Linked DNA regions of Homo sapiens: region 1 is linked to region 2. Evidence: fine-mapped expression QTL. A gene starts in region 2. The other region holds a variant in brackets. All regions are shown on one strand. Distances are from middle to middle. Region 1 overlaps POLA2 (DNA polymerase alpha 2, accessory subunit). Region 2 holds the start of RNASEH2C (ribonuclease H2 subunit C).

What was found. PIP is the estimated chance that this variant, and not a neighbour inherited with it, causes the effect. A credible set is the group of variants that fine-mapping cannot tell apart.
Region 1: its variant is the best candidate, but not a certain one, in a credible set for the expression of RNASEH2C in whole blood (Lepik 2017, PIP 0.55).

The regions. Positions count from the first base shown.
Region 1 is chr11:65,282,913-65,288,238 of GRCh38, reverse strand. It overlaps POLA2 (DNA polymerase alpha 2, accessory subunit), which reads right to left. Exons shown (of 18, transcript NM_002689.4): 11 at 399-523. Among named protein-coding and RNA genes, the nearest start is that of POLA2, 24 kb to the right of the region's middle. The variant G/A (reference allele first, on the strand shown) is at 3,108.
Region 2 is chr11:65,718,877-65,724,244 of GRCh38, reverse strand. It overlaps RNASEH2C (ribonuclease H2 subunit C), which reads left to right and starts at 3,447. Exons shown (of 4, transcript NM_032193.4): 1 at 3,447-3,658; 2 at 3,828-4,003; 3 at 4,081-4,200; 4 at 4,436-5,368. The coding sequence starts at 3,487. The coding sequence ends at 4,462. KAT5 (lysine acetyltransferase 5) reads right to left here. Exons shown (of 13, transcript NM_182710.3): 12 at 5,291-5,368; 13 at 4,641-5,198. The coding sequence ends at 5,064. RefSeq lists an enhancer at 3,302-3,371 and a silencer at 3,522-3,761.

The sequences.
Region 1 (5,326 bases), 440 kb after region 2:
CTTCCCAGGTTCAAGCAATTCTCCTGCCTTAGCCTCCCAAGTAGCTGGGATTACAGGTGCCTGCCACCATGCCCAGCTAATTTTTTTGTATTTTTAGTAGAGATGGGGTTTCACCATGTTGGCCAGGCTGGCTTAGAACTCCTGCCCTCAAGTGATCCACACATCTCGGCCTCCCAAAGTGTTAGGATTACAGGCGTGAGCCACTGCGCCCGGCCAAAGTTGGGCTTTTAAATCTAGCAAAGGCCCATAGATATATATACCTCTCCAAAGATGTAGATTAAGAATGAAAAGATATTTTCTAAAAGGAGGAGGGACTGACATGCTTCCTAAAAATTTAGAACTTCATTAAAGCCATTTTCCAAGGCTGACTCCTCAGCTTTCCCACTGGTGCCTCTTACCAGGATGCAGACATCTGGCCGGTCATGGTTGATGACAGCAATCAGGTCAAGCAGGGGGTCATACGTGATGCTGTCAGATGTGGTGTATGGTCCACAGGCAACCAGGACCATGCTTTGCTCAAAGTCTAAGACAGAGGTTATAGGTCTTGATTAGAAGAGGACTAGTATTAGAATGGTGGGAGGAGAAAGGACAATGATGGGAAATGCCACAGGATTTAACTCATTGAGTCCTTTATGTGTGAAACTCTGGGGACCCAAGGTAAGGAAGACCTCATGTCCACCCTCCAAGAACACTCCACTAGGTGATAGAGACAGAGACAGGCAGGTACACGAATACCTAGAACATGCAGTAGAAACTTTATGAGCTGTGCACATGAAAGATTCGAGGAAAGTGGCAGTCAGGAAAGAATTTACCAAGGTGGAATTTGCTAACACGTTTGAGAATTTTTGGGGATCAAGGGCAAGGCAGGGTACAGGATAGCACTGAGACCTGAGTGTGCTCAGTGTTAGGAAATGTCTGGTCGTCCAGTGTGGCTGGAGAATGTGGGGTACTGAAGAGCCCAGAAAGACAGGCCGGGGAATGGGAGACTGGAACGGGAGACTCCAGGGTGATGGGGTGCAGGGGCCACCCATCACGCTTTGCCTTTTTCCTAACAGCAGCTGCTTTCCTTTTGGAGAATCAGCCCATCCCTCCACAAGGCAGTCTACATGGGGCTGTAAATTGGGTGCTCTGTCTTCCTCTAGCCAAGGGCAGGCACATGACCCAGAATGGCACAAGGCCATTCACACTCTCCTCCCAGGGTCTGCAATCTTGAGGTGAACGATCCAAGGAGAGAAAAAAGATTAGAGCTAACCTATTCCAGCTGAGGTGCCCAGATGAGACAGCTGGGGAATTCCTGCTACCTGGATGCTAGAGTTCCTGGGCTCTCATCTTGGTTCCAAGCCTCGGTTTCTAGCCACGTGTCCAGTCTGTGAGCTACCTGGATCTCCCCTAATAAATTCCTGCTTTCTTGTTAGTCTGAGCCAGTTTCTGTGGCTTACAACAACAAAATCCAAAGATCCCTGGCTTCTTAACATGCTGTTGTGTTAGTTTCCTATTGTTGCTATAACAAGTTATCACAAACTTAGTGCCTTAAAACAACACGAATTTGGCCAGGTGTGGTGGCTCAACGCCTGTAATTCCAGCACTTTGAGAGGCTAAGGCGGGAGGATCCCTTGAGCTCAGGAGGTCGAGACCAGCCTAGGCAACATAATGAAACCCTGTTTCTACAAAAAATACAAAAATTAGCTGGGCAGAGTGGTGCGTACCTCCTGAGCCTATAGTTCTAGTTACTTGAAGTGGGAGGATTGCTTGAGCCTGGGAGGTTGAGGCTGCAGTGAGCTGTGATCATGCCCACTGCACTCCAGTGAGACTGTCTCAAAAAAAAAGAAAAAAAAAAGCCCACGAATTTATTATATTACAGTTCCAGGGGTCAAAAATCCTAAACTGAAGGTGTGGGCAGGGCTGAGTTCCTCCTGTCTGGAGGTTCTAGAGAAGAATCCATTTCCTTGCCTTTTCCAGCTTTCAGAGGCCACCTGCATTCCCTGGTTCATGGCCCCACCTGCAGCGGCAAAGCCAGAAGCCTAAGATTTCTCTATTTTGAAATAAAATTTTTCTTTAGGCTTCCTCAAATCACAGCAGCCTAACATTTCTAAGCTCTGACTCTGATTCTCTTGCCATTCCTCTTATAAGGACCCTTGTGATTATAGTGGACCCACCTGGATAATCCAGGCTAATCCCCCATCTCAACAGCCTTAACTTAATCACACGGGCAAAGTCTCCTTTACCACAAATGGTAAAATATTCACAGGTTCCAGGGATTCCTGGGGCTGTGATTCAGTCTATCATGGTAATAATACCATGAACTGACAGAGCATTCAAGGTGAAGAGCAGGTTTCATGTGGTGGTGGGGTAGGGGACAAAGTTAAGTTTGGCTCTGAGAAGCCTACAGGAGATGTGAGCCCCAGTGTAAGCAGTGAGTCTCTGGAGGGCGAGGGCCATGTCTTATTCTGTATCTCCATGAGTGCCTCATTTAATTCCTTGTACAAAAGTTCATTAACAACCTGTTAAACTGTTTCCAAAGGCTTCTCTGGTACACAGCTCAGGCTCCTGGTATCTCAGCCAGGTTGATTTCATTACCTGAAGTTGACCTAATACCAGCATGCCACCCTTGCCCCCTATAAATTTGTATTTTCTTTTTTTTCTTTTTCTTTTTTTTTTTTTTTTGAGATAGGATCTCACTCTCACTCCTAGGCTGGAGTGCAGTAGTGGTATGATCATGGCTCATGGCAGCCTTGAACTCCTGGACTCAGGAGAGTGATCCTCCCACCTTAGCCTTCCAGGTTGCTGGGACTATAGGCACATGCCACCATGCCCACACCCAGCTAATTTTTTTTTTTGAGACAGAGTCTAGCTCTGTCGCCAGGCTGGAGTTCATTGGCGATCTCGGCTCACTGCAACTTCTACCTCCCAGGTTCAAGCGATTCTCCTGCCTCAGCCTCCTGAGTAACTGGGATTATAGGCACACGCTGCCAAGCCAAGCTAATTTTTGTATTTTTTAGTGGAGATGGGGTTTCAGCTTGTTGGCCAGAATGGTCTCTATCTCCTGACCGTGTGATCCGCCCACCTCGGCCTCCCAAAGTGCTGGGATTACAGGGGTGAACCACTGC[G/A]CCTGGCCTAATTTTTGTACTTTTTGTAGAGATGAGGTTTCACCATGTTGCCCAGGCTGCTCTCAAACTCCTGTGGTCAAGCAATCCTCCTGCGCCAGCATGAGCCACCACGCCCGGCCAAACTTGTGTTTTCTGATAAAATGTGCAATATCACAAGGTCCTAAATTTCACTCCTGATTCTAGGTCATCTCCAAGAATGGCTCTGGCCACTGTTACATGCATGGGGTGTTGACAACATGCTAGTATCAGTGATCTGGTTGCTAATCCTTAACAGTGCTCCACTGTGCTTACAAAAATGCCTTGAGGGTTGGGTGTGGTGACTCATGCCTGTAATCCCAGCATTTTGGGAGGCCGAGGCGGGCAGATCACCTGAGGTTGGGAGTTTGAGACCAGCCTGACCAACATGGAGAAACCCCATCTCTACTAAAAATACAAAAATTAGCCAGGCATTACAGGTGCATGCCTGTAATCCCAGCTACTTGGGAGGCTAAGGCAGGAGAATCGCTTGAACCCGGGAGGTGGAGGTTGCGGTGAGCCGAGATGGCGCCTTGCACTACAACCTGGGCAACGAGTGAAACTCTGTCTAAAAAAAAAAAAAAGAAAAAAAAAACAATGCCTTGAAATACAGAAATACATACATATATTTTTTTGAGACAGGGTCTCACTCTGACACCCAGGCTGGAGTGCAATGGCACAATCATGGCTCACTGCAGCCTTGACTTCCTGGGCTCAAGCAATCCTCCTACTTCAGCCTCGCAAGTAGTGGGGACTATACAGGTGTGCACAACCACACCAAGCTGATTTTTTTTGTTTTTATTTTTTGTAGAGATGCAGACCCACTATGTGCCGGGAGGCTAAACTTAAACTGGGCTCAAGCAATTCTCTCACCTTGGCCTCCCAAAGTGCTGGGTTACAGAAGTCAGCCATCACACCTGGCCACCTTGAAATAAATAAATTCTATCTATCTATCTATCTATCTATCTATCTATCTATCTATCTATCTAGTGTCTTACTCTTTCACCCATGCTGAAGTGCAGTGGCATGATCACGGCTTACTGTAGCCTTGACTTCCCAGGCTCAAGTGATCCCCGCACCTCAGCCTCCTGAGCAGCTGGGACCACAGGCACATGCCACCATGCCGAGCTAATTTTTTTTTTTTTTTTGTAGAGACAGGTTTTCGCCATATTGCCCAGGCTGGTCTCAAACTCCTGGGCTCAAGTGATCTTCCCACCTCAGCCCTGTGAAGTGCTGAAATTATGTTGAAATATTTAGAAGCAAAGTTTGTCAAACTTTCTTTTTGCCTTTCCACAACTAGATTAGTTACCACATAACACTAGGGTTTTAAAGAAATTCTTTTTGGCCGGGCATGGTGGCTCATGCCTGCAATCCCAGCACTTTGAGAGGCCAAGGCAGGCGGATCACAAGGTCAGGAGTTCAAGACCAGCCTGACCAACATGGTGAAACCCCATCACTATGGGGTTTTGTAAAAATACAAAAATTAGCCGGGTGTGGTGTACGCCTGTAATCCCAGCTACTTAGGAGGCTGAGGCAGGAGAATCACCTGAACCCGGGAGGCGGAGCTTGCAGTGAGCCAAGATCTTGCCACTGCACTCCAGCCTGGGGGGCAGAGCGAGACTCCATCTCAAAAAAAAAAAGGAAGTTATTTTTAAGTTTTCACTTTAGAACAAATTTAGAATTGTAGAGAAGTTATGAAGATAGTACAGAGTTCCTGTGTGTCTTTCACCAGTGGCCCCTAATCTTAACATGTTAGGTAACCATGAACATTTGTCAAAATTAAGGCATTAATGCTGGTATATCGCTGTTAACTAAATTCCTGGATTCTCGAGGTTGAGTGTTAGAGCCAGAAAAATAAAAAAGTAAATTCCTGGCTTTATTCAGATGTTGCTAGTTGTTCCACTGATGTTCCCGTTCTCTTCAAGGATCCAATCCAGGATGCCACATTATACTTTCAAAAAATTAATTAATTTTAATTTTTTTTAAGAGTCAGAGTCTCGCTCTGTCACACAGGCTGGAGTAAAATGGTGTTACCATAGCTCACTGCAACCTTGAACTCCTGGGCTTAGGCAATCCTCCTGTCTCAGCCTCTGATTAGCTAGGACTACAGGCATGCACCACAAGCCCAGCTAATATTTTTTTTAATTTTTAGTAGAGACAGGGTCTCCCTATGTTGCCCAGGCTAGTTTCCAACTCCTGGCCTC
Region 2 (5,368 bases):
GTGGCATGCGCCTGTAATCCCAGCTACTCAGGAGGCCAAGGCAGGAGAATTGCTTGAACCCGGGAGACAGAGGTTGAGCTGAGTGAGCCAAGATCGCGCCACCGCGCTCCAGCCTGGGCTACCAGGTGAGACTCTGTCCCAAAAATATGTGTGTGTGTGTGTGTGTGTGCGCGTACACACGCGTTTTAACCTCTAATGAATTAAAGGATCTAGGCAATGATCATCTATGGCTGCTAACCTCACAAAAAGAGGGAAAAACACAAAACCACCCATGAAGTAGTCTTGCCCTCTCCCCTCCCCAAAGAATCGAATTAAGCTTCTAGATGTAATTACAGAAAATACAGGTATAGATTACCTTGACACTATAGGAATGCAATTACTAATATCCAGACTACAGGAAACTTGCAAAACCAAAAACATAAAAATAAAAAATAAGATCCAACATCTACTCCCAATTTTTAAAAGCTCTTAGTAGTACAGCTTTAATGAGACATATATAACAAGTCAAAAGGCAGTTTCATGATTATTGGTGAAACAGCAGAAGCACTCCCGTGAAAGTTTCAGGAAAAAGACAATGTTGTCCTCTGATACCAGTAACATTTGAGAGACTGTTCTGCAAGTACTGGCCAAGGCAATTAGAAAAGAAAACAAATTACAAGGTGTAATGAAAAAAAAAAAACAAAAAACAAAAAACAAAAAGAAGATGTAATGGTGAGGTAAAAATTATTATTTGAAAGAGAGGTGACTAATTCTGGGGATCTTAAAATAAAATAAAAATCATTAGGAACAAAATAATTCAGTCGATATCTAGTTTAAAAATGGACATATAAAAATCAACAGGTTTGCTATAGACAAGGGGTCTGAAAACTATGGCCTGTGGTTCAAATCCAACCCCTTGTCTGTTTCTGCAAAGATTTACTGGAACACAACAACGCTCATTCATTTATGTATTGTCTATGACTGCTTTCATGCTATAACGGTGAAGTTGAGTAGCTGCGACAGAAGCCATAAAGTCCACAAAACCTAAAATATTTACTATTTGACCCCTTACAGAAAAAGTTTGCCAACCCCTGCTATAGATTAAAAAGAAAATCAGTTAGAAAATAAAATGAAAAAAATAAAAGCCCCAATTTTGGTTTTTAGAGAAAGGGTCTCCCTCCGTAACCCAGGCTGGTGTGCAGTGGTGCAATCGTGACTCGAACGGCAGCCTCAAACTCCTTGGCTTAAGTGATCTTCCCACCTTAGCTTCTTGAGTAGCTGGGACTACAGGCACATGCCACTGTGCCCCACTCATGTTTAAAAAAATTTTTTTCTTTGTAGGAACGGAGTCTTGCTATGTTTCCCAGGCCGGTCTCAAACTCCTGGCTTCAAGCAATCCTCCCCCATCTTGGCCTCCTAAAGCACTGGAATTACAGGTGTGAATCATCATGCCCAGCCCCTCAGTTCTTAATAGAAACAATTATTAATATAAGCTAAGAAGAAATAAACTTTACAATATGTATTAATAGCTATTATATATGAACAAAACCTCACAACTGTACAGATATCCAAGGAGATGTGAATAAATTGAATTATGTCTTTCCTGATAGAAAACTAAAGCAAGCCTTTTTCTAAATTAATCTGCCACTCTAGTGAAAGAGCACCAGGAATACATCTGCAGTTGAACAAATTGGGTATATTACTCCTGCACTCTGGGGAATTTCAATAAGAGGGTGCTAGAAAGGACTTATAGGAGGATTTGTGCCCATGTTCAGTGATTTCAGTCAGGGTTTAGGGAAGCCAGGCTTCTCTCTGGCTTGGATGCTGTCAGAGGTGGGGGTATGTCTATGACGGACTATCTTAATGAGTCTTGCCCAGAAGGAGAGAAGATTAGTTGGAGGCTAATGCTGTAATTGGTAAGGAAACAACAGTCACTCTCTTATGGGAGAAAGAGGGATGTTTCATGCCTTTTGTGGTTTGGACAGTGTTCACCTTTGCCAGCATTCAGATGTGACGATGGAGTGGTTCTGTTTCTGTCTTGCTCCCTCACGGTCACAGAGTGACCTTGTCCGATGCTGATGTTCTCTGAAATTGTTTATATTCAACAGAATACCAAGGCCAGCTCCCAGATGTGCAGGGATGTATAAATTAAACGCAATTTAAATCTAAATTTCCAGTTTTGTGTTTGTTTTATGTGAGAACTTGAAAAAATATATCTAAGTTGGGTGTCTGAACAAATAAACATTAGAGAAGAGCTGAGAAACCAAAGAGAGAAAATTGTGAAATCTAAAAGACTGAAAAGTGTTGATAAATTTGACTACAAAAAATTAGTCTTTGTCCTGGGTGCAGTGGCTCACGCCTGTAATTCCAGCGTGATTTGGGAGGCCAAGGTGGGCAGATCACTTGAGTCCAGGAGTTCAAGACCAGCCTGGGCAACATGGCAAAACTCCACCTCTACCAAAAATACAAAAATTAGCTGCGTGGTGGCGCAGGCCTGTGGTTCCAGCTACACAGGAAGCTGAGGATGGGGGATGGATTAAGCCTGGGAGGTCGAGGCTGCAGTGAGCCAATCAAACCACTGCACTCCAGCCTAGGCGAGTGAGACCTTGTCTAAAAGACCAAACAACCACAAAAATAAGTCCTTGTCCAGCAAAAATCACCTTTACACAGGTTTGCAAGACAGACCACAGATAAAACATTTTCAATGCATTTAAGAAAAGGGTTGATGTCCCTAATAAACTAAAAATGAATAACCTACCTACTAATCAATATAAAAAGAGTACTTTTCAGAATCGTTTTAGATTTTTACAACGACATGTGCCATTAAAAACAATAAAAGAAAAAAACCCGGCTGGGGGCGGTGTCTCACGCCTGTAATCCAAGTACTTCAGAAGGCCGAGGCTGGAGGATCGCCTGAGGTCAGGAGTTCGAGACCAGCCTGGCCAACATGGCGAAACCCAGTCTCTACTAAAAATACAAAAATTAGGTGGGCATGGTGGTGTGCGCCTGTAATCCCAGCTACTCCGGAGGCTGAGGCAGGAGAATCGCTTGAACCCGGGAGGCGGAGGTTGCAGTGAGCTGAGACCGTGCCTGGCACTCCAGCCTGGGCGACAAAACGAGACTCTGTCAAAAAAAAATAATAATAAATAAGAAAAAGAAAGAAAGAGGGAAGGACGGGAAGGAAGGGAAGGGAAGGGGGGAAGGAAGGGAGGCAGGGAGGAGGGGGAGGGGGGAGGGGGAAGGAGGGGGGAGGGGGAAGGAGAGGGGGAGAGGGGAGGGAGGAAAGAGGGGAGGGGGGAAGGAAGGAAGGAAAAAAACAAAACACAACTGGAAAACCCTAGGACTTGAACCCAGGGAAAGCGTTAGGGGGTAAGGGGACTACACTTCCCGTGAAGCTCCGCGGCGGCTTCCCGTGAGGCCCCGCGGAGGCTTCCTGAGAGGTCCTGCGCGCTTTCCGCGCCAGCTTCAGTGTCAGCTCGCGAGCCCTGGCGTCGCGTAGGAGGGAGGATGGAGAGCGGCGACGAAGCGGCCATCGAGAGGCACCGCGTCCACTTGCGCTCCGCCACATTGCGCGACGCCGTACCCGCCACACTGCATCTGCTGCCCTGCGAGGTTGCGGTGGACGGGCCCGCCCCGGTGGGGCGCTTCTTCACGCCCGCCATCCGCCAGGGCCCCGAGGGTGAGCCCTGCGGCCGGACTACGGCTCCCGGCAGCCCCCGCGCCGGCCTGCGCGCTTCTCATCGCCTGGGCTCCTGGGGATCGTGGTCCGTCCGGAGGTGGCGGGAGGGCAGCTCCGGGCTCGACCCAGCGTGGGTCCTGCCTGAGGCCCTTTGCGCCTCCCGCTCCAGGACTCGAAGTGTCGTTTCGGGGCCGCTGTCTACGGGGAGAGGAGGTGGCGGTGCCGCCTGGCCTCGTGGGATACGTGATGGTGACAGAAGAGAAGAAGGTGTCGATGGGGAAGCCAGACCCCTTGCGGGATTCCGGGACTGACGACCAAGAGGAGGAGCCGCTGGAGCGGGACTTCGTGAGCAAAGGGATAGGGTTGAAAGGGGGTGCGGGCGGGAGCTGTAGTCCCGATGCTGAGCCAGGCCCCTTCCCCAGGACCGCTTCATTGGAGCCACTGCCAACTTCAGCCGCTTCACCCTGTGGGGTCTGGAGACCATCCCTGGCCCGGATGCCAAAGTGCGTGGGGCCTTAACTTGGCCCAGCCTTGCGGCAGCGGTGAGTAGACGAGGAGTTCCGTCTTGCCCCCGGGTGGATGGGCTGGGGAGCACAATTGCGCAGACGGAGCCTGGAGGATTCTACTGGGTAGTGTGTGGGAAGCGTAGCTCCCTGACCACTCTTCCTAGCATGTCTAGAAGCGGTTATTCTGAACAGCTGGGTCCTTCCTCGGGTATGGGGGCCAGCTTGCCGCCCTGTCTTACAAGTCCAACAGTAGAGGCGACTCCTGTTGCAGATTCACGCACAGGTGCCCGAGGACTGAGAACCAGAGCTTGAAATTCAAAGCTGCGATCCCTTCACAGCAGTAAACCAGCTCTTTGGAACCGATTCCATCACCCCAATAAAGGAGCTCTTCACAGCACCTGTGAGTCTGGGCGCCTTAGAGCCCCTAAGCCAGCATGGGCCCTTTCCCCCTCCCCACCAAGAACTTTGCATGGCTCTGGCATATAGAAACAATTTATTGCCGGGGGCAATAGGGGTAAGAGAAGCCAGAAATTTTTGCAGCCAGCACCCACCCCACCCCCAACTTCTACTTTACAAAAGAAATTTTTACAATCACCAGCCCTCTGTACAGAGCTCCCCCATCCGGATCCCTTCTCACTGTACACAGCTGCCTGGCTCCCTCTGGTCCCTGCTTCAGAGGAGGCCTGGGCCTGTGGCCAGCTGACCTTGGAGTTGGTCTGAGCCCGGAGCTCGCCTTGGTGCTGGGCACCAGTGGGCCCCTGCCAGGCCTGTCCTCTCCTTTTTGAGCTGTCCTCAGCCCCATCTCCCTTAGAGTGCTTTGTGGGAGCTGCAGTGGGGGCGGGGTGGGCTATCAGCCCCAGTCCTGCTGCCGTCTTGGCACTGCAGTGGGCAGTGTCTGGTCACCACTTCCCCCTCTTGCTCCAGTCCTTGGGAGTGAAGTGCAGACACTTGGAGTCGATCCGCAGGAGCCGCTTGAGCATGGCCCGCTCATGGCCATCCACGATGTCCTCTGACAGTGTGAGGATGTACTGGCCCTGGGCAGAGGAGATGGGTTCAGCAGGTGGTCAGCCCACAGAGGACTGCACTCTGCATCCCACACACCTGTCTCCCCTGCCTGCCTCCCTACCTTGTAGTAGTTGATGAGATTGAGGTACTGCAGAGTGGAGATGACATCCTCCTTCTTGATGCTGGTGATTTCACTAAT